Regions from separate parts of the Homo sapiens genome. Here regions 2, 3, 4 and 5 are each linked to region 1. Evidence: fine-mapped expression QTL. A gene starts in region 1. Each other region holds a variant in brackets. All regions are shown on one strand. Distances are from middle to middle. Region 1 holds the start of TPM1 (tropomyosin 1). Region 2 has its middle 20 kb from the start of TPM1-AS. Region 3 has its middle 92 kb from the start of TPM1. Region 4 overlaps LOC105370854 (a long non-coding RNA gene). Region 5 overlaps TLN2 (talin 2).

What was found.
Region 2: its variant is fine-mapped to the expression of TPM1 in whole blood (INTERVAL, PIP above 0.99).
Region 3: its variant is fine-mapped to the expression of TPM1 in cerebellum (GTEx, PIP 0.97). The same link has a PIP of 0.9 or more in cerebellar hemisphere.
Region 4: its variant is fine-mapped to the expression of TPM1 in cerebellar hemisphere (GTEx, PIP 0.98).
Region 5: its variant is fine-mapped to the expression of TPM1 in nucleus accumbens (GTEx, PIP 0.99).

Annotation. Positions count from the first base shown.
Region 1 is chr15:63,039,750-63,044,852 of GRCh38, forward strand. TPM1 (tropomyosin 1) reads left to right here and starts at 2,998. Exons shown (of 10, transcript NM_001018005.2): 1 at 2,998-3,194; 2 at 4,278-4,403. The coding sequence starts at 3,081. RefSeq lists enhancers at 1,942-2,856, 3,770-4,683.
Region 2 is chr15:63,067,216-63,072,318 of GRCh38, forward strand. It overlaps a transcript of TPM1 not described here. Among named protein-coding and RNA genes, the nearest start is that of TPM1-AS, 20 kb to the left of the region's middle. The variant A/G (reference allele first, on the strand shown) is at 1,893.
Region 3 is chr15:62,947,827-62,952,929 of GRCh38, forward strand. No RefSeq gene overlaps it. Among named protein-coding and RNA genes, the nearest start is that of TPM1, 92 kb to the right of the region's middle. The variant C/T (reference allele first, on the strand shown) is at 2,806.
Region 4 is chr15:62,872,494-62,877,596 of GRCh38, forward strand. All of the region lies in intron 1 of LOC105370854 (a long non-coding RNA gene), which reads right to left. Among named protein-coding and RNA genes, the nearest start is that of MIR190A, 51 kb to the left of the region's middle. RefSeq lists an enhancer at 2,883-3,721. The variant C/T (reference allele first, on the strand shown) is at 2,571.
Region 5 is chr15:62,791,621-62,796,723 of GRCh38, forward strand. It overlaps TLN2 (talin 2), which reads left to right. Exons shown (of 59, transcript NM_015059.3): 46 at 1,021-1,167; 47 at 4,507-4,673. Among named protein-coding and RNA genes, the nearest start is that of MIR190A, 30 kb to the right of the region's middle. RefSeq lists an enhancer at 4,638-5,103. The variant C/T (reference allele first, on the strand shown) is at 2,945.

The DNA of each region.
Region 1 (5,103 bases):
ATTGTGAATAACCTTAATCACTTTTACACGTGGCATTTCCAGCCCGACACTGCAATCCCTTTTTGTTTCAGCAGCCACGGCTAGTGATTCCCATTTTTCACGTTCCTTAATTCAAACTGCAATGAAAGAAGCTGAGTGGCCCAGTTCATCATTGCCTGACAAGCCACAACGCCAAGTCCCTGGTTAGTATTTAGATCCATCCTTGAGTTGTGGCCAATCAGCCAGAGAACAGGGATACACACTACATACAGCCTGTGACTGTCCAGCCTACCTCTGGAGAGGACCAGGAGACCTGTTCACTACAGAAGAATGTGTTATTTAAGTCATGACGTTTTGCTTGTCCTAGCTTTGTCTTAGCCCTTGGTGACAAAAAGGTCATGGGTGGTATAGCCCATGAAGCTGACTTGGGCCTGACACATGGCAGAATCTCAACATGGGTTAAAAGAAATGATTGAATTCAGGACCTGCTATGTTAACCCATCAGTCTAGAGATCAATGATGTGGTACTAAGGGATTTTAAAAGTTAGCGTTGTATAGCTCCATTTCCATACTTTGACACCATAGGCTTCGACCTCTGAATATAGGCCCTAGGTGAGGGAGTCTGGGAGAGGAAGAGGTGAAAAGAAGAGACATCGATGGCTTTAAACTACACAATAAGGTCTGAATGTCTGAATCTGGAATTCAAGGCCCTTTATCATACAGCCCCAAGCTTCCTTTCCAGTCTCATGCCCCCATTCACCCCCAAAATCCTACTGTCCAACCACCACCAAACATTCCTTTTTCTTTCCTTGGCGCATACAACGGCCCTCCTCTCTAGCTAACTGCTACCCTTCCTTTAAAATCAGTTTAAAAGCCATCACCTTTTCAGAGAATTTTTTCCCATCTGCTCTGACCTAGTCATTTCTATTTCTTCCTCGTGTGAATTCTTAACACCTTTCTCATGCCAAACACCTGGAGGACATAGACCTGTGCTACTCATTCTTTGGATTCCAGAGCCTAGTACCTGCCTAGTATATAGCAGGTACTCAACAACCGTGTGTTTAATAAATTGCTTGTAGCATGATTTCATTTAAGGAAACTTTAATGAGTCCCTCGGCTACATATGGCACAGTAAGAAAAGAAAAGTCAGTAACATGTGGTCCCGCAAGGAGTTTCTCTAGTTCAGTTGCCTCTTTTTATAAGTGAGAAAAAAGGCTTAGAGAGATTGTAACATGGCTAAGGTCACACTGCAAGGAAGTGACCAGGCCAGGTCTGGATCCCTGGAACTGACTCCTAACTCCCTATTCTTGCCTCCTCTGCTGAGCTCCAACCTGGGGAGTCAGCTCCCTGGAGTCCACGCATCTGGATATCGTCCACATGCCTGGAACTTTGTCACTGTTCCGGTGGCTGGGTTGACACACCGTGATTAAAGGGCTCTGGTCAATTTCTGTGCCACGCAGCCCCTATGCTAATGGTCAGATCTAATGTTCTGACCATTAGGTCAGTGTATCTTTTCCCTCCTGGGCAGTTAGGTTAGTGGAAGAAACCCGATAAAATCTTGGAGAGGAATTTGATCATTCTCTGAAGGACTTACAAGTTGTTTGGCCTGCCTAATCTGCTCAGATACCGTCCGGGGAATATTTGGTAACCATGCAGTACAGACTGTGAATTATTCTGTGGGGACTATTAACAAGACCCTCACCAACCCTGCCTCAGCTGATCTCAGGGCTTGGGGGCAGCCCCCTCTCCTCCCCTCCCACTGAAGCTCTGAAAAAAAGCAGCCTTTCCCCCTTGGGAGATGGGAGGAGTAGTTAAAAATAAGAAGTGTTGGGGGAAATCCTCCTCCTTCCAAGCACAGCTCACACGGCAGAGCCTCCTCAGAGTTGCGGCTGCGGATGCAATGACTTAGCCAGGTTAACGCCGATCCCATGTTTTCCGAAACCTGGCACCTAAGCATCTAACATGGAAGGCCGACTCCCTAAAATCAGTGCAAGAAAAATGATAACAAGTTATATCTGGAGGGACCTCGGGGATTATCTACCCGCTGGATTTAAAGTTGAGGAAGCCGCGGGCAGCAAACAAGGTCTCACAGTTGCTGGTGGCAGAGTAGAGACCACAGACCAAATTGCCTGAGTCTAAACTCAATGTTCTTTCCCCTTAGACTGCCACCCGCACACACACGCACACATGCACACCTTTTTGGAGGCACTGCACAGCAAGCACAGAAGTACGCCACTGAGTCCTGTGTCCCTAAAGTATTTGACTGTCCCTCCGCTGGGGGAAAGGGCAGGCAGAAAACAAGACTCCGTGTGCTGTCGCTGTGCCGCCCCCTGCCTCTCTGACCCGCGCCCGCAGAGAAAGTCTCAAGAGCCGCCCCAGGCTTTCTCCCACGTTCTCCCTTTCTCTGCTGCAGTTGAGTTTCCAGAGCGTGAGCGCGCAGGATGACACCTGGCTGGCTGAGAGCTGCCGGGGAGGCGCTGGCGGGTGCCGAGAGCGCACTGACCCTGACGCGGGGTGCAGCACGGCTGGGAAGCCCCCGGGCCTTTGGCTAAGCGCGCCGGGGGACGGCACAGGGGGGCGACGCGCATCCACCACCTGGTCCGCGCTCTCCCGGCCTCCGGCAGCTCAGGGCGGGCTCGGTTGGGGACCCTAATGGCTGGGTGCCGGCCCTGGGAGAAGGGCACGCGGAGGGCGGAGGGTTGCGCCTCGGCCCCGGCTCGGCCCCAACGCCCTCTCCCTGGCGCGCAGGTTTAGAAACAGGGCGGCCTCTCCGGCCGCCGCCTCGGCGGCTCGGGTCCCCATATATAGTCATATCCACCGTCAACTGGGAGGCCGGCGGCCGGCAGCGAATGGGCGAGCGGCCCCCGCGGGAGGAGCGGGGAGGGGGCACGGGGCGGAGGGAGGAGAGGAGGAAGGGGGGCAGGAGAAAAAAGCTTTTCCAAAAAAGTATTGGCTGTCTTGAGGAATGCGGTCGCCCCCTTGGGAAAGTACATATCTGGGAGAAGCAGGCGGCTCCGCGCTCGCACTCCCGCTCCTCCGCCCGACCGCGCGCTCGCCCCGCCGCTCCTGCTGCAGCCCCAGGGCCCCTCGCCGCCGCCACCATGGACGCCATCAAGAAGAAGATGCAGATGCTGAAGCTCGACAAGGAGAACGCCTTGGATCGAGCTGAGCAGGCGGAGGCCGACAAGAAGGCGGCGGAAGACAGGAGCAAGCAGGTCTGCGCCTCCCCGGCCCTGCGCCCGCGCCCAGAGCGCCGGGACTCGAGCCTGGCACCCCCGGCTGGATCCCCACCCCGAGGACTCGGGGAGCCACCACCCTACCCCCACCACCACCCAGGGCGGCCAGGGCGCGCGTCTGGAAAGAAGGAAGGGAAACGCAAGAGCCAGGCTTAGTCTAACTTAGTCTGGTCTGAGGACGCTTATTTCCCTTCTCTGGTTCCCATGGCCCGCGAAATCAAGTCCTAGAGGCGCTTTATTCTCAGGACTGGGAATCAGTTTGGGGGAGGGAGGAGGACACCCGGTTCCTGGGGACGTTTGAAGGAAGGGCGAGGGATGGAGAAAGGGGGTCGAGTAACTCAAGTGTTAGAAGTTCGTTGACTTTTGACTGGGGAGAAAGGAACCTTAAACTTGGGGAGGAGAAGGGAGTCCTGGAGTTGTTACCTAAGAACAAAGATGGGGCGGAATGGAGGCTACAGCCCGAAAGCCAGGCCAGCAGTGGCGTTCTTCTGTGTCCCCAAGTAGTGGACTTGAGCCCGCTGAGACCTCGGCAGGAGTCTCGTCCCAGGGCAGGTGGGTGTGCGGGGTGAGCCGCGGAGCGGTTCCAGCTCGGGTAAAGAGGAAGTTACCTCGGGTCCTTTGCACTCCAACTCGGCGGCGCCCCGAGCCCGAGGGGCCCCAGCCAACCCGACGCCCGTGTGTTGTGTGTGTCTAACACCCGGTCCGTGCCGGCCGCCCGCGCCCGCCCGCCGCTGCCCCCAGCTCGAGGAGGACATCGCGGCCAAGGAGAAGTTGCTGCGGGTGTCGGAGGACGAGCGGGACCGGGTGCTGGAGGAGCTGCACAAGGCGGAGGACAGCCTCCTGGCCGCCGAAGAGGCCGCCGCCAAGGTACCCGGGGCGCGCGGCACGGCGTGGCGCACGAATGGCTAACTCTTTCTCTTTCTCTCTCTCCCTCCCTGTCTTTCCCTCTGTCTCTCCCGCTGTCCCTGTCCTTCTGGTTCTGTGCACCCACACCCCTCCCCTTCGGGATCACGCTGCCTGCTGCACCCCCCTCCCTCCCTGTACCCCCTGGCCAACTCCCAGCTGGAAGATGAGCTGGTGTCACTGCAAAAGAAACTCAAGGGCACCGAAGATGAACTGGACAAATACTCTGAGGCTCTCAAAGATGCCCAGGAGAAGCTGGAGCTGGCAGAGAAAAAGGCCACCGATGTAAGTGCACGCTCACACTGCTTCCCTCACCTCTTGCCTGCGTGGCCACTCCGGGGTCACCACAGGGCTGGAGAGCAATGAAGGAAGTTTACCTTTTCCTGCTGGACACCTGCACACAGCCCTGCCATGGCCCAGAGCATTGGATGCCGCCTCTGACTGCTACTGCACACATTCATTTATATTTCATCCACTCCTCTCTTCTTCTCCTTTCCTTTACCTCCCTGGGGGTGGAGGTGGGTGGATGAGAGGCTGGGAGAATAGAGCAGCTGAAATTGGACTCTGGAGGTGAACTTCACCTCCCTGGTGGCAGAAAACCCTTGAGGTGTCATCACCAAGGTTTGTGTAGAGAATGCCAGGTTTTCTTCACTTTCTTTCCTTTTGCCGTTTCCAGTGGGTGGGAAGTTCTGGGTTTGGTGGTGGGTCTAGTCAGGGTTCAGAGAACCTGGCCTCTAAATGAAAGAAATGACACAGCGGTACCTTTACTTAGATGGCTGCACTTCATGGTGGGGCACAGAGACACTTTGAGGCTTCCTTTCTCATTAGTGTAAGCCTTAATCCACCCCTTAAGATCTGCCTGGGAAGATGATACTTGCTTGGGTCTGCAGTCTGAAGGCACTAGATCCAGAAAGTAAGCTGTGAGTTATATATAGCTCAGTGCTTTATATGGTATAGTGAGCTAGCTGCCCCCTGCCCCTCCTGC
Region 2 (5,103 bases), 27 kb after region 1:
CATTCTCACTCTACAGAGACTTCAAAGCATAGAGGAAATACTTTTTTTTAAAGAAAGCTGTGAATTAAAGTATTTTAGTCATAGTATGGTGGAATTTTAGAATCTGGACAATGTCTCTCCCTTGAGTTTATAAAGACTTCCATGATTTCATGCTTTTCTTTTCTTAAGGCTCCTTGGGCCTGCTTCTGACTATGATTCCTTCCTCATTCTTTTTTAAATTCAGAATAAGAGAAGTGTACCCTTCTCTGAGTAAATCCTGCTTCCTGATGTAGACAAAATGCCAAGTCTGAAAGTTCTGCTGAGCAGATGTTCATGTAATTCTGGAGGCACATCTGTGTTTTGGAAATCCTTCCAGAGACTTTCGCACTTTCTATAAGTACACTCTACAAGGGGAAGTGGGGCACTAATGGACTGGGAGGGCAGGTCAGGAGTAGCCCAAGGTATGCATGTGCAAGAGGAAAACTTGATAAACTCAAGTTTATCAAGAAATTGTTGATTTCTTGTTCAACTGTTGATTTGAACCAGGCTTCTGGTTCAAAGGGCCAGGCCATAGCTACAGCTGCTCTGGTGGGCCAAACCAAAAGCATCACTGAGTTTGGGCACTTGAAGTTTCAGACAGCTGGGAGTCTCCATAGAACCGGAAGGGAAAACACTTCCAAGGATATGAGCATGTCTTGTCCCTGCCTTTGGGCCACCCATGCACACCAGCTCCACAGCAGCTGAAGCAGAGCAGATCCAGAGGAGGCTGTCGGAGGGACCACTGTCCTTCCTGCTGAATTCATACTGACCCTCTGGATTCTCCAGATTTTCTCCAAAGTTCTTCCATTCTAGCCTGGCCAAACATTTGGGCTCAGCAAACTGAGACAAGCTCCCCACCCATGGCGACACTTCCTATGTCCATAGTGTGAATGTAGTAATGGGATATATGTCTTGGAACCCCCAAGCATATGTCACGTGCAAAACACCGTGGGAAGCAGTGGGGGTGTGGTAAAGAGATGGGCTGGAAAGGCTCTTTGTCCTCAATAAGCTGGGCATCTGATGGGGAGATAGAGGAGTGAAGCGAGTCCGAACTAATAGGCATGTGTATTTGGAGGCAACAAGGAAGAGAGAACCATTCTGACTGGGAGCTCCCTGGAGGAGGTAGCGGACGTTTGACTGGGGTTTGGCATATTCAAAAAATGTGGATGAGCAAAGAGGACAGAGCAGCAGATATTCCAAGCGAGAAAACATAACGAGCATAGCATCCTCCCATGTCCTACCATTTATAAGAGAATGTTAATGTGAGAACTGCTCAGTCTCCTGACAGACCCGGGGGCTGCAGGCACATTTTCCCTAGGGGTAGGTCTGTTAGCTTTTCAAGATCATGAAGTATTTTTAGGTCCAAGTTGTCACCAGCATTCAAAGCCACCGTGCATCCTCCAGCTGTTCCCAGTGCATACCGGGCTCTTGCTTGTCATAGCTTGGATGTCCCCTGGATCATCAGATACAGACTGACTCCTGCACTTGTTTTCCCCCGTAAGCAGATCACGTGTCAGTGTGTAAAATGTATATCACGCTGGTCTTCATGTAGGTGTTGCAAGTTTCGTTCATTTTATACACATCCATTAGCACCACACATGAATGCCATCCTCTTCAAGAAGTAAGCAGATAGGGCTGGGCGCGGTGGCTCATGCCTGTAATCCCAGCACTTCGGGAGGCTGAGGCGGGCGGATCATGAGGTCAGGAGATTGAGACCATTCTGGCTAACACGGTGAAACCCCATCTCTACTAAAAAAAATACAAAAAAAATTAGCCAGGCGTGGTGGCGGGCGCCTGTAGTCCCAGCTACTAGGGAGGCTGAGGCAGGAGATTGGCATGAACCCGGGAGGTGGAGCTTGCAGTGAGCTGAGATC[A/G]CGCCACTGCACTCCACGCTGGGGGACAGAGCGAGACTAAGTCTCAAAAAACAAAAAAAGCAAGCAGATAAATTCTAAATCAGTGTTGAGTGGTGACAAGTGCTTGTTCTTTTGCTGTTTGAATGGATAACACTATCAAAGCTAGACAGGAGTCAGAATGTGTACCCTGTATTGTGGTGACTGGGGGAAGGACAGAGACTTAATTCCAAATTTCAAAAAATTTCAGTGCAGCAAAAGCAGTAACCCCCAGTTGGTCCTACCTGAGGGGAAAGCCTGCCCTGTGAACGGAGAGGAAAGGGGTTCTGGAAGAGGTGGGCAGCACTGGGCAGGTTGATGTTTCACTTAAGTTCAACACTGAGCCCTAGCAAGGGGTGGATGTCACGCTGGGCTCGCCTCCAGCCAGGCCTGCATTCCCAAATCTATTGCCAGAAACCATGTATGGCTCAGCTCACAAAGTGGTTTAGTGAGGTATAAGAGGAACATTCACTCTTCTTCCTCCTCTTATCCTGTTGCTCCTCCTCCCCTCCTTTCCTCACCAAGAGAGAAATTCTGACACTTCCTAAGTCTACCAAGCTTTTTAGGGTCTACCCTTCCTGGATACAGGACAGGTGACTATGGGGTAAGAGTAAACTGCTCAGCAAGTGACCAGTTGCTGTCCTGCTTGAGGTCTCTTTGTGTTCTCTATTAACTGCCTCTCACCAAGTCTGCTAACCTGTCTTCCTTCTGCCTCTTTTCTGCTAACCTGCTTGCTGACCTGTACAGATCAACTCTACCAGCAACTTGAGCAAAATCGCCGCCTCACTAATGAACTAAAGCTGGCCCTGAATGAGGATTAAACTTAAGAGTGAAAAAACTTGGGCTGAATTCTAGGCGTGGAGCCCATGTGCAGAAAATCTAAGACTGTCCTACCTTCAACTAATAGAGTTGAAAACAGTTGCTTTCTGCAGAAATGCAAATGCAAGGAATTGGCTGAAAGGCTGGCCTTGCCTGCTTGTTTCTCTATATGGCTGGAATAATTACGTTCTCTTTAATCACAAAACAGCTTTTATGGTAGAATACTTATATCAATTCAGCACTGCTCCTTGAAATAGCAGGTCCTCTTGTTTGAACTGATAAATAATGAGGAGCCCCCCCAAAAAATGTTTTCTATTTCCTGACAGCCATGAGTCCTACTTTAAGTATGTATATATATATATATATGTGTGTGTGTGTGTGTGTGTATATATTCCTATCAGATACTCATATTCCTAACTTCTAAATATCTGGTATAGTGTTTGAAATATGATTAAATGTACCTATGCTTGGGCAAAATAGCTTTTGAAAACAGGAACTCATGCCAGAAGCCCCTGGTTGTCTGAAAGGTATGCTTTACTCAGTCTAATGGTGCTGTTGGAGTCTGGGGAGAATGTCATGCTAATAAATAGAACACTATAAAAATATTAAGAGAATGTCCTAATGAAGTGTGCATGAAACATGTTGACAATTTTTTATGAGCAACAGAAATAAATCATTTTAAAAGTTCTCAGAAAACCTATTTATGTCATCTTTGCTTTTGTGAGTTTGTGTTACCGCACAACTCCCAGACTTTTAACTGCCTGTACCTTGGAAATGTCTGCTGTTCGTAACTTCTTCAGTTTGTATAACAGTGCTGCAGCTGTATTTGGTTTTTACCTCTCCCTGTTCCCACGGCACACCGTCAGTGAACCTTCACCAAACCCCACGTGCATTTTATCCTCAGTGAATTGTTGGTGGAGGTGCACCTGACTGCTCTGTGAGAATCCGTGCCATGGCTCCTTTGGGTCAAAGATGCCCTCCCCTCCGTCTTAGGTTCTTGTCTAGAAATGAGTAATGTCTTACAAGCATGCCTAGTTCTAATCATCTCATCCTGTGTTTGTGATTGATGTTTGCCTGCCTAAATGTACAAACCACCATTGTGTCCAAAGCACAGCTATTCATGACTTAATTTTCTAATCTCACCACAGAGAAAGTGGCTCATGCCAAAGAAGAAAACCTTAGTATGCATCAGATGCTGGATCAGACTTTACTGGAGTTAAACAACATGTGAAAACCTCCTTAGCTGCGACCACATTCTTTCGTTTTGTTTTGTTTTGTTTTTAAACACCTGCTTACCCCTTAAATGCAATTTATTTACTTTTACCACTGTCACAGAAACATCCACAAGATACCAGCTAGGTCAGGGGGTGGGGAAAACACATACAAAAAGGCAAGCCCATGTCAGGGCGATCCTGGTTCAAATGTGCCATTTCCCGGGTTGATGCTGCCACACTTTGTAGAGAGTTTAGCAACACAGTGTGCTTAGTCAGCGTAGGAATCCTCACTAAAGCAGAAGAAGTTCCATTCAAAGTGCCAATGATAGAGTCAACAGGAAGGTTAATGTTGGAAACACAATCAGGTGTGGATTGGTGCTACTTTGAACAAAAGGTCCCCCTGTGGTCTTTTGTTCAACATTGTACAATGTAGAACTCTGTCCAACACTAATTTATTTTGTCTTGAGTTTTACTACAAGATGAGACTATGGATCCCGCATGCCTGAATTCACTAAAGCCAAGGGTCTGTAAGCCACGCTGCTCTTCCGAGACTTCCATTCCTTTCTGATTGGCACACGTGCAGCTCATGACAATCTGTAGGATAACAATCAGTGTGGATTTCCACTCTTTTCAGTCCTTCATGTTAAAGATTTAGACACCACATACAACTGGTAAAGGACGTTTTCTTGAGAGTTTTAACTATATGTAAACATTGTATAATGATATGGAATAAAATGCACATTGTAGGACATTTTCTAAATTTGGTGGTCCTGTCATTTGTATGTTCTTAATTTGTGAACTTTTGAACGTGTGACTGACCTGCCTTCCCCCACAAATAGGTTCTCAAAACAATATCCCACAGTCCAGGGGAAACTGGGTTTCATGTGTTACCTTCTCAGAAACACTAAAGGCAGCATTATTTTGGTCTGTTAAAGTTATAACCAAGCAGGAGAGACCCTTTCCAAATGTTGTTTTCAATGTTATTGGTGTATGCCTGCACATACATGTAGGACTTTGGCAGTGGCTTTACTGGTTTGGGGATTTTTCTTCCTGACATATTAGCTAAGCCTCTAGCAGTGGCATAGCCACACAAGAACAAATGATGGGTTAATGTGCCAAATCTGCTGTTGTCCCCCAGCGATATGATTTGACTCAAACTACTG
Region 3 (5,103 bases), 92 kb before region 1:
CTTTTAATGCTGGGAGGCTCTCTGCTCTCTTCCTTCTGCTTCTGCCCCTCTTCCTGGGTCATCTCAGCAACTACCATGGCTTCCAATATCATCTGCCTCTCATGGACTCCCCAGTTTATATAAACAACACAGACCACTTTTCTGGGTGCCTGACTCATAGATCCAAACACCTATGAGATGGTTCCAACACACTCTTCAAATTTCACATGCCCATGCCGAATTCATCATCTCTCCTCCAGCCTTGCAGCCTCATCTTCCGTGTTCTCTAGGTCACCCAGGCACCCATCCAGGGACTCATCCCAGCCTCCTGTCTCATCCTTAACCCCTGGGTTATTCTGCTATTAAGTCCTACTTCCTAAACAGTTTTCGATCCTGGCCCCCTCCCCCTCTATCCTCACTGCCACTGTAATATAGTCTGAATATTTGTCCCCACCTACATCTCATGTTGAAATGTGATTTCCAGTATTGGAGGTGGGACCTGATGGGAGGTGATTGTATCGTGGGGATGGTTTAGCACCATCCTCTTGGTACTGTCCTTGTGATAATTGAGTGAGTCCTCACAAGATCTGGTCACTTAAAAGTGTGTGGCACCTCCCCGCCACACCATGCTCTCTTTCTTGCTTCCATTCTCGCCGTGTGGTGGGCCTGCTCCCTCTTTGCCTTCTGCCATGCTTAGAAGCTTCCTGAGGCCCCCCTAGAAACATATGCTGCTGTGCCTCCTGTACAGCCTGCAGAACCATGAACCAATTAAACCCCTTTTCTTATAAATTACCTAGTCTCAGGTATTTCTCTAGGCAGCCTAGTACACACTGCCTCCACTCAGGTTGTTATCGTCCCTCTCCCAAGTTCTGCTACACGCTGACCAACTTGCCAGCACCACTATCCTCCAAGCAGCAACTCTGCCATCCGGGCTGAAGGAGGCTCTGCCATCTTGTAGCTACTGGCACTGGAACACACGGTCTCCTTGGTTGCTGCAAGGAAAGTGAATGCTGGAATATTTTGCACCAACGAAGGACACAAACCACTGGAAGAACTAACCACATGTCTCCATCTAACTGCAAGGGGTGAGGGGTGTAGGGAAGGGTGAACCTCCTATGTCACAGTCTGGAGGGAGGGAACAACTGAACATGGGTGAATACCAGAAACCTCTACCAATCATTCTCCTCTGCTGCTTTATCTCCTCTAGCCCTTATCATCTGATGTACCGTGCATTTGTTTGTTTACATACTTCTGTCCTACTTCCCCCAACCTATAGAGAATCTAAGCTTTCTGAGGGCAGATAATTCATTTTGTTTATTGCATTGCTGTATTTCTACAGCAATTGTAGTATTCTGCAACAGGGTCTGGCACTTAGTAATCACTCAAATATTTGATGAGTGCCTTATTAATAAAATGAAAAAATGAATGGTCTGGGCTGTATGTGTTTACTGGGACAAAGGTAGGGCCAATGTTGAAGGAGGAGCCTGGAGAGTAAGAAGGGGTCATATCACAAAAGGCATTATGAGCCAATATAAAGGTGATTTCATTTTATCCTATAGAGGACAGACGGCCGGGCACAGTGGCTCACACCTGTAATCCCAGCACTTTCGGAGGCCGATGCAGGTGAATCACTTGAGCCCGGGAGTTCAAGACCAGCCTGGGCAACATGGCAAAACCTTGTCTCTACAAAAAATTAGCCGAGTGTGATGGCCACCTGTAGTCCCAGCTACTTGGGGGACAGGTGGGTGGATAGCTTGAGCCTGGGAGATCAAGGCTGCAGTGAGCCGTGTTTGCACCACTGCACTGCAGCCTGGGGGACAGAGTGAGACCCTGTCTCAAAAAGAAAACTTTAAAACTGCAGAGAACCACTGGAGGGATCTTAAAAGGGAAGTGACATGTTCTAGAAGATCACTTAGGAGGCAGGTTGGAGGGAACCCGCTGAAAGCTGGGAGGCCAGCAGGAAGACAACCGCTGCTGGTTTAGAGCTGGATGGTGGAATTTGTGAAGCAGGAGCAACAAGACTTGCTGAGAGATTAAATATGGGGTTTGTGAGGGGTCAAGATGACTTTAAAGGGTTTGGCGTGGGTTACTAGAAGGCTAGGAAGATGGAGTTCCATTTACTCCTCCCCAGGTAAGAAGGACTGAGGGATGGAGAAGACCTGGGGGAAGTCCTGTAATGAGGAATTGTTTGGGACACGTGAGCTTTGACATGGCTAATCACATGCCCAGACCTTGCTAAATTGCATGCAGCTCCCTATATAGATGTTTTTCCTCATCACTGGAATTTTGCACTGTCCCCTGACCCTGGAATAGCATTCTCTCTCTCTCTCTGTTAACTACTCCTAGCTCTGACCTCAGAAAACAAATCAGAAAGAAAAGAAGCACAAGAAGATGGGGCATACCTTCCAGTTCCCACCTCCCCTGACGGCACCGAACTGTACCTGCCCTCACCCCCAGGTGGATGTAGAGGCCTCCAGGGCTGGAGGAGAGGAGTCAGCTGGGTTCCTTGCAGGCCAGGAGCAATGGATAGATGGCTGCTTGGATGGTGGACAGCCTCCAGGCAGGGCCAAGGTAGGTACCCTGTTCAAAGGCAGTCATTGCAGCCAACTCTTGTTAGCATATTACTTGTGAAATGCTTCTCTGCCTCACATGGCTTCTGCCTCTCTGCCTTCCCTGGGTTCTTGTCCCCAGCCGTGGCCTAATATGAGTGCTCCTGCCAATCTTGTTTTTATCCTGGCCCAGTTCCTCACGCCTGATATCCCTTCTGTACACCAGCCTTTTCCAGCGTAGGATAGGATTGAAAGTGATACCTCCTGTGCCATCACT[C/T]AACATGAGACAGAAGCCCAGCAGTCCTGCTGCCATGTCCTTCTGCATGAGGGAAGAATGCCAGCTAATTTAATCCAGTCCCTGGGAAATCTTCTCTGGCCCCATCGGAAATAACGTGCTGGGAAACAGTCCAAGGCCACTGTCCAGCTACAGCCTGACTCCAGCAGTGTGGGTAGGGATGTAGGTAGGTGCATAGTTAGCTGCTCTCCTGCTCCCAACTGCTGCACTGGGAGGTGATTGAGTGTCACCTCATGCATTAACCATGCATGGGAGAGAGCTGTGGGAGCTTCATTACCAACCCGCCCTCCTGTAGCCCTCATCCCTCCATCACAGGCCATCTGGATTGACACCTTGATTGATTATCAAGGGCTCCATTGCGTCTGCTGCAGCGTCACCTGACAGAACGGGGAGGGGCTGTGTTGTACCTTACCTGTCAGTCTCTGCTAGGTGTCCCCTCTTGTGGTGCATGGGCACACCACGCTGGCATATTCAGTGGAGCCCTCATTTTATGGCCAGATGTCTCCTGCTAGAATAGCATCTGCCAACCCACAAACCCACTCCAAATCCTATAGAAGGGGTTTTGGCAAAAAGAGTTCAAATTCAGCAGTTTTGATAAACCCCCAGAGAAAGGCATCCCTGGGCTGTTTCTAAGGATGGTAAATACCCACATCAATTGGTAAATTATAAAACTCAGCCACAAAATAAAGGGCTGATGGTTTGCAGAGAAATTGGCACAGTTGGGAAAGAAACAATACTGCCAATGATACAGCATCCTCTTTCCAAGCATTGGTGGTAAAGAAGAAATGACAAGCTGCTGCATCCAAAGCCTTTGAAGGGAGAAGAAAAGAATTTTCCATCTTGATTTTTGGCATAGAGGGCGGTAGCCTTAAGTTTAGCAGGACAGGAGGAAGAGGAGGGAGGCTAATATTTGTAGAGTTCGTGTTTTGTGTACAGAACCTCATCAAATCTTTGCCACAGCCTCACGAAGCAGGTATTTCTGCACTCATTTGTCAGGTGAGGTAGTAAGCTCAGAGAGGTGACGTAATTTGCCCACAGCCTCACAGCTTGCATATGGCAAACCCAAGCTGTCTAATTCTGAAATCTGACCTCTCTCTACTGTTATTACATGTCCACCCTGCCCCAGGCACATTTCAGGAAAGTCGGAAACCCAAGCCTTGTTTGAAAGGATCTTAACATATTTAAACAAAATCAGAACAAGAAACTTGAGAGCAAGTGTCATTGAATAAAATTAGTTTGAATGATCCGTACTGATCTACACTTATTTAAGGGCCCCATGGGGCGTTTTATACATTCAAGTATACTTGTATATACTTGAACAGAGTTTCTTGAACAAAGATCTGCTATGCAGATGAGGAAAACCAAATTCCAAAGAGATGCTCACAAGTGGTAAGGGAAAGAACTAGACTTGTTTTTACTACGTAGATGCGTTTGTGTTCTGGTAGCATGCAAAGTCCCTCTTCGACATGTGAATATTAGTTATCAAAATGCGCGTTCTTATAAAAGAAACAGTCAGATGGCTCTGCCCTAGTGGTCGTTGTTCCTAGTTCACATTCATCAGTCACAGAAGCTGGCATACTGTACAATCCTGAGGAACTAGTTATATACAATTATGCTTGTTTCAGAATAGTGGGGGGGTGGGGGGAAATTGGAAGAACAATGTCACATTTGGGGAATTAAATGCCCATATAATCCATTACTTTTATTAAAAATATTTCTGAGCATTTATCATTCTTAGTTTTAAATAATATGGATTCTACACCACCTGCTAGAATCTGGGCTGGATGCTTTTTATACACATTGATTTAATCTTTACAACAATAGCACAGAATAAATCATGTAATTCCTAGTGCTACAGGAAACTGAGGCCCAGCAAGTATAAGTAACTTGCCTCAAATTGCACAACTGGAAAGTTCCAGGGCCATCACTTGAACCATATCCGTTGATGTTGGACTAACGGAATACATATTAGCACCTCATGAAGCCGGTTGACTTGCCTTGGGTGAATTGTAACGTCAATGAACTGCCTCATGTCTATCACAGGACAATTACACCTAGTCAATGAAATGTGTTGGAGCTTTATGAGGATTAAACGTGAGCCCATGTGGAATCATATGTGAATACTGAAGTTACACACAGCCCAGGACTCCTGAGCATGTGCCTGAAGAGACATGCAAGGACGCTCATTGGAGCATTGTTTTGTAACCGCGAAAAATTTGAAGCAACCAAAATGTCCATCAGCAGGAGAATGAAGAAAGAAATCATGATGGCTGGGCACGG
Region 4 (5,103 bases), 170 kb before region 1:
CTCTTATTAAACTTAATATTAAACTCTATAAACTTAGTAAAAAAAGACAATATTCTTTCTCAGCTAATCTAGAGATAATGCATTTTTCCTAATATTTTTATTAACTAGTTTCCTAATTTAGAAAATTTCTTTTTTGTAGAGATGGGGCCTTGCTGTGTTGCCCAGGCTGGTCTTGACCTCCTGGCCTAAAGTGATCCTCCTGCCTCGGCCTCCCTAAGTGCTGGATTAAAGGTGTGAGCCACTGCTCCTAGCCTCTAATTTTTTAAACTATGTGAATTTAATATTTGTATTTTGCATAATATGAACAGCATTCACAATCCTCATTACATTTTGCATCATTTGACTCATACAATTACATATATTTCAAGGAGCTGTTTTTCTCCAAAGTATACACCTAGAATCCTTATCAGAATTTGAGAGGGCCAGGCATGGTGGCTCACGCTTGTAATCCCAGCACTTTGGGAAGCCGAGGTGGGTGGATCACGAGGTCAGGAGATCAAGACCAGCCTGGCCAACATAGTGAAACCCTATCTCTACTAAAAATACAAAAAAGTAGTCAGGCGTGGTGGCTGGTGCCTGTAATTCCAGCTACTTAGAAGACTGAGGCAGGAGAATTACTTGAACCCAGGAGGCGGAGTTTGCAGTGAGCCGAGATCACGCCACTGCGCTCCAGCCTGGGTGACAGGGCAAGACTCTGTCTCAAAAAAAAAAAAAAAAAATTAAGAGGAAATATTCAAATAGTAACAATATATCTATATAAAAGCAGAAAATGCAAAAAAGAAAGCAAATATTACTAATAAACAGTATATCTGATTGACATACTTTGTGCATACCACCACCATTATTTCATAGGCTAGCTATGATATGCAACCATGAGAGATACTATGTGTCAACTCCCTGACCTAAGCAATCACCCAAACCACAGGGGCAAGAAGCCTGGAAACAACGCTTCCCAGACTCTCTGGCTGGCAGGCTTCAGGTTAGATTCTACTCTCGCTTGTTTGGGGGATGCAGAAGAGAAGGAGAAGCCAGTGTTTGAGAGGCAGGACAGGCCAGCTCGCAGCAGCAGCAGCTGCTCCTGTGGGGTTCTGCATGGCGTTCGGGCATCTCCTTGAGAATCTCCCACTTTGATGCTGCTGGAAGCGGACACCATTCATGGCCACTTCCCCGGGATCTCTGAACTTCCAGATTTCAAAGTGGCCTTTCTGCCCTTTCTTCCCGCTGCTCTTGTGAGGTCATGAATGCCTCTAGTTCCCTGTATTGAACCTCTCTTCCTTCTCTAAATACCTAGAGTGGCTTCTGTTTTTCTGACCAAACCCTAATACAATAACATGCACATACAGTAACAAGATCATTGATCACCCTCAGGTTCAGGGAAGACACAGTATCTTGAAGTAGGCATTTGAGTATGTGGGCTTCCAAAGGCTGAAGACAAAGCAAAGCAGATCTTGCCTAACTACCAAGGCTAAAACCACATTCCTGTGCACCCCGATTTCTGTCCTGTCAGAGAAAGCCCACAGGTCTTCATCTGACCGTGACAAACTTCAGTGAGGCTTTTTTGTTGTTGTTGTTTTGTTTTTACCAGGATGAAATCAGCATAGTGAGGTAATAATACTGCTGGCCTGTGGGTACTGGGGCTCATGCAACATGAGAAAAACAACCATTACCAAGGCATCAAGTTGGTAGGTCGAGTCCTTCCACATGTGAAGGTGCAGTAAGTAGGGCTGGGAGTAAATGAACAATAAAATGCATCCTTTATGGTGCAAAGGACAGGAACGCCCTGCATCAAGGAATGGGGAAACAGGGCAAGGAAGACAGCTCAGAGCCAATGAAAAGAAAACCTACTAAGCACACAGTGTTGTGCTGGTCCAGCGGTTCTCTCCATGTTTTTGGTCTTGAGGCCCCTTAAAAATTATTGATGGCCCCAGACTTCTGTTTATGGATCATTATCATTTTATAAATTGAAGCTGAGAATATTTTAAAAAGAAGAATACACAGCACACATCCCAACAGCTGTCAGAGCCAGTAGCCTTTGGAAACCATGAGGGTGAGAAAATGAGAGTAAAAAGACAAATAACATCTTGGTATTTTCATGAAAACAGTGTTGACCTCAAAGCTACCCTGAAAGGGTCTTGCGGACTCCTGGACCACACTTTGAGAGCCACCGTGCTAGGCTGTTGATTCTAGTCTAGCTCATTTCATTCTCTTAACACTGAAATGTGTGTGATTACTATACCCATTTGACAGGGGAAGAAACTAAAGATCAGAAAGGCCTAAGTAACTTGCCCTAAGTAATCTTGCAGACCAGGATTTAACCCTGCTCTCTCTGCCTCCAGAGCCTCCGTTGGAACAGAGGACTTGACCATGGGAGGGCCAGGCCCAGGAGGGATTAGCTGGAGAGTCCCCAGGCGGTCACAAGGGTCCCCGCAGTGGGAGGAAGGAACCGTCGCCTCGGGAGCTGACTGGCCATGAGAAACTGCAGTACCCAGGCTTACCCCCACTGCGAAATGGGCCCGCATCCTTGACATTATGGTCTGGGAGAGGGAGGCAGCCTGGAATGGAGACCTGTC[C/T]GCCAGCGCGAGCTTTGCCATCTGCTGATGTTGAGCGCTTGGCCAGGCACCCCTAAGGGGTTGGGCTAGCGAGTGTCTTAGAGCAAAACACCATGGGGACTCCCCGCCAGCCCTGAGCTCTCAGTCCTGTATCCGGACTAGAATCTCAGGGTTGTCTCGTCAGCTGAGGGTGGGAGATGGGGCTGCATAGCCTGAGAGGGAAAACAGCTCTATTCTCACTAGCCCACATGGGCAAAGATCAGCCCAGAGAATCTGGGGCCTTTTCCAGGACCATAATAGGTGATTTCGCTCCAAAGCCTGCCAGTGGGATTATCAGTTTAAATCCACCGAGAGTAAGTTTTGTATTAGAATAGCATTCCATAGCTACTGCTGGCCTTCCACTGGGGAGCTCTGTTTCCAATCTCAAAGATGTCAAACAATTTTAAAGGCACAGAAGCTCAGTTTTACCCAGCCGGGCAGGCAATGGCAGAAGGCATGTGACTGCCAGCATTCCCACAGCAAATGCACAATGCAGCTTCACAACAGCCCCTACCCCAACCCTGACCCCAGACTCTGGTCTCTATTCTGCTTCCAGCTCCAAGACGGGCTGGAGGAACAGCTGGTCCAGAAACCTGGGGTGCCCATAACTACCCACTCAGACCTTCTGTGGGGTGCATGACTGTCCACGTCCTCAGGGAGGCCTGCATTTGCTTATTTAGACACCTAGCTCCTGGGCACACTCTCTGGAATCATAGGCCACTGCCAGGTCCCCCATGCCCATGGCCACGGCATTTCCTGCCAGCCTGGCATACTCCTCATGCCACCTCCCAGGCAGGGATGGCCACCCTCTATGAGCAAAAATAACACTAACAATAGCTCGCATTGTGAAGTTCTTCCCACTGCACACTTCTCATACCCTGTCTTGCTGGAGCTTAACAAAAACTTTACAGGGTTTGCAAGTGATAGCCCATTGTCCTTCTTCTTTATAGATGAGGAAGCTGAGGCTTGGTGCATGAAACGGGGTGTCTAAGGTCACTCCATGGGAGAGCTGGCACTAGGTCCCAGGTCTCCGTCTCAGCCCAGGGTTCCCTCTGCTGTCTGGCATTTTTGGGGTGAGGTGCAGAGCAGAAATGGTGCAGGGCACTGAGGCTAGAAGTGTAGTGAGCCCAGGGCCCCTCTCTTGCCTTTGTCTCATCACTGGTGGCCACCAGCCATGAGTCCTCGAGGGATCATTCTCTGAGCTTAGAAACACACAAATCAGGAGTTTCAATCAGCTAAGCAATGTTTCATTTTAATTTTCTTTTCTAAATTTAAATTTAATTAAATATTAAATTTAAACTTAAATGGAGAGATTTAAATTTAATACTCAAATCTCTCTCTCCCTATGCCTCCTGTTCCTGGTTTCTGGAGTAAAGAGCCTGCCTTTGGCCATCTCAGGAGCATTGGTGGGTGAAGCTCATCTTTGGGATCCTTCTTGGGATGTGGCCGTGGCCTCTCAGCAGGTTATTTAGCAACACGACTGGATGAAAGAAACCCTCCAACTTTCCAGACATAATGTAATAGGCCCTGTGTCCTCCCTTCCTGGGCTTGGGTCATGATGAAAAAGAGGGCTAACCTCACTTTTGGGACCTAAGTGAGGTTAGCCCTTGTCTTGGTAAAGCCACTTCTGGGAAGCAGCAATTTGCCCAGACCAGTGGTAAATGTTGGGGTGGTCCTACCAGGCACAGGCCTGGATGACCTCCAGGGCTCCCCGCCCCCAATTCTGCAGTGGTAGGAGGCAAGCCTTAGCACTTAACAGGCTGTTGCTGGACAAATGGGGCCCAAAGCAGGGGGTGGAAAGGGTCAGGCAGCCAGAGGGAGCCACATGAGGCCTCAACAGTGGGATCCCAGCTTGATCCAGGTGCCATCACCTCTGGCTCTTTACCCAGAGGAGTGGTGTGCAGGGAAGGAATCTCATGCAGCCTGGCCGAAGACACTGGGCTCCACATTGAGTTGCTCTGTCAGGAAAGACCTGATACATGAGTGTCACGGAACAGTACAGAGGACCCTCCAACCAAAGTCATGATCTCGCCACTCAGGGTTGGCTGGCTGTCCCAGCAGTTACAGGATTCTGAAGTGGACTTGGGGTGGAGAAGCACTCACATGGGCGCTCAGAGATTCTTGCCTCTAGTAAAGAGGAACCTCACACGTCTATGTCCGGAGAGATTCCGCTAAGAGGCTGCTGGAGCCGCTCTCTCGGGCTGGACAGAGAGCTGGTGGGTGACTCCAACCTTCCTTTGGGGGCCAGCTCCTCCCATTGCCCTGCTAGGAAAAGTCCTCGGGAATCTAAGGAAAGGCACTGTACCAAGCAAATGGCTCAGCTTTGTGCTATGAAGGCCAACCTTCCCCTTGACATCAACTCCTCTCTTTAGACCTGTGTACTCAGCCCTCAAGCTCCCGTGGCAGTGTGAGAACAGCACGCTTTATCCTTCACTCTTGGCCGTTTGGGTGCTGGGGTTGGCAAAGGTGTAAACTGCTTCCTGCGTCACCATTTGTGAATCAGGGGCTGATGGCT
Region 5 (5,103 bases), 250 kb before region 1:
GTTTTATTCACAATACCTGAGATCTTTTCATAACTATTCCTGATAGACGCTGGAAAAATAAAAGCCATAGCTTCTAGCTCTTGTAGATTCTTGAAAATAACACTGACCCATGCTTAAAGTTTTGGTTAGGTTTGAGTTGCCTACCTGGGCTGGAAGGCAGATTATTTATGGCAGCTGTATCGATCAGACCAAAATGAAATTTGATGTGAAACAGGGCCGGAGGAATGCAAACTTCGGGGAGGTGGAAGTGGAATTTGTTACACCTTAAAGGAGACAGCTGGCAGCTAATCCACAGCGGAGCCCACTTGGCCTCTCTTAGGCAAAGTACCTTTTATAATCACACAACCCAGGAGTTATTAAAAGAATGTGTGCCTGCTGAGCTTTTAGCTCTAAAAATGTACCTTTTAAAGGAAACCTCAAACCTGGCCTGATAGGAAGTCTGGGCTTGGTATGGTCGCTGTCCCCATGGGATACAGCTGGGGAAGGGGGTGTTCTAGTTGGTAAACATACCAATTTTGCAAGAATCTGAACACTTCAAAATATGCTTAATACGGAAACCACATTTTGAACCTCTAATTACCCTCTAGAGCTATTTTGAAGAATAAATGAAATTAAACACATTACCTGCTTAGAAGAGGCCTTGACACACAATAGGGGCTCAGTAAATGCTTGTTGAATGAATAACAGAATTATCCCACAAAGTTCCTCTAATTAACATTCTTACCAGGTGGCTGGAGGAGCAGATAAGCTATAAACCAGGAAAGATATGTATCAAGGAGGGTATCACGCTAGGACCTCAAGATACAGCCTTGCTAGGTAGAGACTGGGCATTTTACAGTCTCTCAAAAGGGAAGCAAAATCAACCAAATTCCATACTTCACCAAACACAGACTCCTAATAGGAGTGGAATTTTCCTAGCCAGGCTCCCATAGGACATAGGAGAAATTTTCCACGTAGGGAAGGCCTCGATGGCAGAGTCCATCACGCTTCTCCTTCCCCATCCTGGGCTTGCCTCTGCAGATCGGATTCCAGATTCGCACTCGTGTGCAGGACCTGGGCCACGGCTGTATCTTCCTGGTGCAGAAGGCAGGGGCCCTCCAGGTCTGCCCCACAGACAGCTACACCAAGAGGGAGCTGATCGAATGCGCCCGTGCCGTCACGGAAAAGGTAAGGAGCAGCCCTCAGTTTAGAGTCACAAGAACCTGCGCTGGCTCTCAGTGATCCGCTGTAATCAAGGACAAAAGCAGGAAACTCAGCCAAAACTAACCCAGCTGACTCAGCTGTCTCATCCCGATCTTCCCCACTGCCCAGGTTCTCCCAAAAATGGGGTGCATCAGGGAGCTGGGGTGATCATAGGCCCAGAGAATTTGAGGGCTTAGAGGGACTATCCCATGAAGGTCAGGCCCTGGCACTCCCCCTTCTTGCAGGGCTTCCCCGTAGGCAGATTGTATCAAAGTCCCCATCAGCAGCCAGGAGCCCCTGGTCAGGGGAGGCCTGGAGCCAGAGCCCTTTCCTGCAACCTCTGTTGACACCATCTTTCTTCTCAAGGAGGCTGCTGAGGGCTGAGGGCTGAGTCAGGAGGAGTGAAAATCCCTTTGGTGTAACCTCTAATTTACAGATGAGACAGTGAAGTGGGGGTGGGTTAGGCCACATGGGGCAGTGGCGTGTGCCTTTGTGGAGAAGCAGAAACTTGTCCTCGGTTTTCTGATTCTAAAGACAGTTGTTTGTAGAGAGATTCCCATGGGGTAGTGAAGAAGGCTCTAAGATCTTAGCTAAGGTACTTCAGCTTTCCACAACTTGATTTCCTCATCTGTAAAATGAGGATAAAAATATATAATATCTGACTGATAGAACTGCAAAGATTTACTGTGCTGATATGTGTAAAAGTGCCTGGTACAGTGCCAGACACACAGTTACACATGTAATAAATCTAGCTACTGTTTTCTCTAACTTTCCTCCAAACTTCTTTTTCCCCAGGCAGTTTTCCCCAGTTAACCACGCCATACTCTGAATGTTTCTTCATTCCCAAGTAGCTCTTCTATTCTCCCCCAGTATGCGAGTCTTTTGCTTTGCTTTTTGTCTCGGAATCATTTTTCAGGTCAGCTGTTTTGCAGGCTGCTTGAGGTACAGGATAAAGCATCCAGGCTTGGTGGCTTTTCCCCTTCCCTTAACTCTGGTTCATAGGACACAGAGCTCTGTCCTGTTTAGAAACTTGGCAACAGACTTGAGGGGCGGGCAGGGGGGACCCTCAACTGGAAGCTGCTGCCACAGAGGCTGCTCTGTCCGTGGCCCTCCCTGAGGCCAAGCTACAGTCTGGCCTTCTCCCATAGCCCACAGGGCTGTCCAGCCTCCTGGGACTCCACAGACGAGGAAATAAATCTCTCAGCTGGAGGAAGGCATTTGCCTTCCTTTCAAAGCCCTTTCTTGTTATTGAAGTTATTCTTGCCAAGTTCCCCCATAAAAGGCCTTATAGCGGGAGCACCAGGAAGGGAGGAGAGGGGTCCGAGCTACATAGTGTTTGTAGGCATGGCCAAGCAGCTTGGTCTTCCTGAGCTGGCCTCGGCCGCTACCTGTCCCGGCTTTGGGTCCCTGATTTAGGACACCTGGAGGGACCACCAAAGGAGAGGAGGTGGCTCGTTCCTAGCAACTGGCCTTTTGACTGTTTCTTGCTGTGCGTCCCTGTCCTCTATGCCTTGTGTCTCGTTATATGCCTTGATGGTGTGTATAGTGTACCCACACACAGCCATGACTTGTCTGCCTTTGTGTCCTCAGACCCTAGTGACTAGCAGATACTCAGTAAACACCTGCTGGCTGGCACACCCTTCACAGAGGGTGGGATGCTATTTCTGGACTCTTTTTCTTTCACCTTGGCTAAGAATGTCTCTCTCCCAGACACATATACAACCCTGCAGGCTTCCCGTGATACTTGTCTTGGCCTTTGTCA[C/T]CCATCCTCTGAGGGGCTTTCCAGAACCTGGATACCTCATTTCCCGGCCAGCTCTATGCCAGTCTGACTTGTCTTTTCCTGGCAGGACCTAGTAGCATTTGAAAGAAAGGCAGATGAGGAAGAGAAACAATTCCTTGTGGGCTGGTCTTGGAACGTGGTAGGTACCCAGGAAATGGTCCCTGTGCCTCTCCTGCCAGACTGTGTCCACAGCCTCTGCTGAGATCTCAGCAGCACGGGGGACAGAGTGTCTCATACTCCATGCCTCTTGCTGGCACGGTAACACAGTGACTCCCCTGCCCTGGTCAGCATGTTTGAAGAAATCTACCTACGAAACGTTGTCAGATTCTTCTTTGGGTCGTAGTCAAGGGTAGTGGGTGTGTGCACGCAGAGGTTAATACAAAGACTCAAAGAGCCTCCAGCCACTAGCCTGACACATGCGATTTACATTGGGTGCATTGGGCCATCCTGAGGGCAAGAACGGTGTGCTGTGGCGTCCCGGGAGGCAGGGCTGTCTCTGGAAGAGGAGAGCAGGGGGAGGTGTCCGGGGCTCAGCTGTTTTGCAGGCTGCTTGAGGCACAGGATGATACATCCGTGCTTGGTGGCTTTTCCTTCTTCCTTCACTTTGGCATCTGACGGGGCAACTAGTTCGGTGGCTGCGGGAGAGGGGCAGGAGTCGTTGCAGGCAGAGCGCAGACCCAGGGTGGAGAGGTGGGAGTGTTTGGGAAAGTCAGGAGCTGGCGGGTGTGGTGAGAGCCAGGTGAAGCGGACACATGACCAGAAACGGAGCTCAGCCAGGGGAGATTTGTAAGCAGGGTGTTAGTGTGGTCAGGTTTATGTCATAGGAAAGTACCTCGGAGCAGTGAGGGTGTACGTGATGGGTGAGGGTGACAGCACAGGATTTCTGACATGGAAGACACCCGAGTGAACTTGCTGGGCCCTCGGGGCACTGAAATGATGGTTCGGGGGTGGATGATGGCTTGCAGGAGTGTTAGAAGTGGAGAGGTCACATACACAGATCCCCTCTAGACTCCAGCCCTTCTGAACTCCATTCTGGAGAATTTCCATCCCAGCAAAGGTGTGATGAGTGTTAGCAGTGGCCTGTTCCTACTGAAAACCTAATAAAAGGGGATGTAATCGCCACACCTTTCACAGGAGTCTAATCCTTTCTCCCGTTCTGTGGTTTCAGAAACATAGCAGTAATTGAATAAATAGCATCTGCCCTCTGCTGAGTACTTACTATGTGCCAAATGCCTTGCTAGACACTTTACAGATATTTTTCTTCCTACTTAATTCTCTCAACAACCCTAATAGGCCAGAAATAGTGGCCCCATTTTACAGATGAGGAAACTGAGGTTTGGAGAGGTAAAGCAGCTTTGCCTAAGGTCACAGGGCCTGTAAATGGCAAAGCTGGTATCCAGACTGAGGCCGTTGACTCCAGATGTGTGTTGTTAACCTCTAAGCTACATCAACTCCTAGGAGAGAATTCATTATTTTCAGAATCTGCTTTTAGGTCCTGTTCTCTCCATTTCTTAGCTCCCCTCACATTCCCTTTCTGCCTACAGGTCTCCTTGGTGCTCTCGGCTCTCCAGGCCGGGAACAAAGGAACCCAGGCATGCATTACAGCCGCCACCGCTGTGTCTGGGATCATTGCCGACCTGGACACCACCATTATGTTTGCAACAGCGGGGACGCTGAATGCAGAGAACAGTGAGACCTTCGCAGACCACAGGTACGTGGGGGTCCTGGACGGGGAGAGGTTCAGGCTGGCCTGCCCCTGAAACTCATGATCGACTTGGAGACGCCACCTGGGAGCCAGAAATGTAGTTATCTGTTTTGATTTCAACAAGATGCACAAGTTGGGAAAGTGAACCATGTAATCAGAATAAGCCCCCTTTGCCAACTGTAAACACAGTGTCGTGGTTCGAGCTTTGCCTTTGACAGCCTTAAATCCAGCCTGCTACAGCAAAGGACAGATTTTAGACCTGCCACACGCTGAGCCAGAGAGCCGTTCCTCAAACTGCTGGCCAACCCCAGCAGGATTGGGAATGGCAGGGGCAGGCATATTTCGCTTAAACCCTGTTTTGGGAAGATAGGGGCTCAAAGCCCCTATCTCTGCTCAGCTTGCACTCAGCCTCTCTATCTGCTGCTAGGGACCCCTG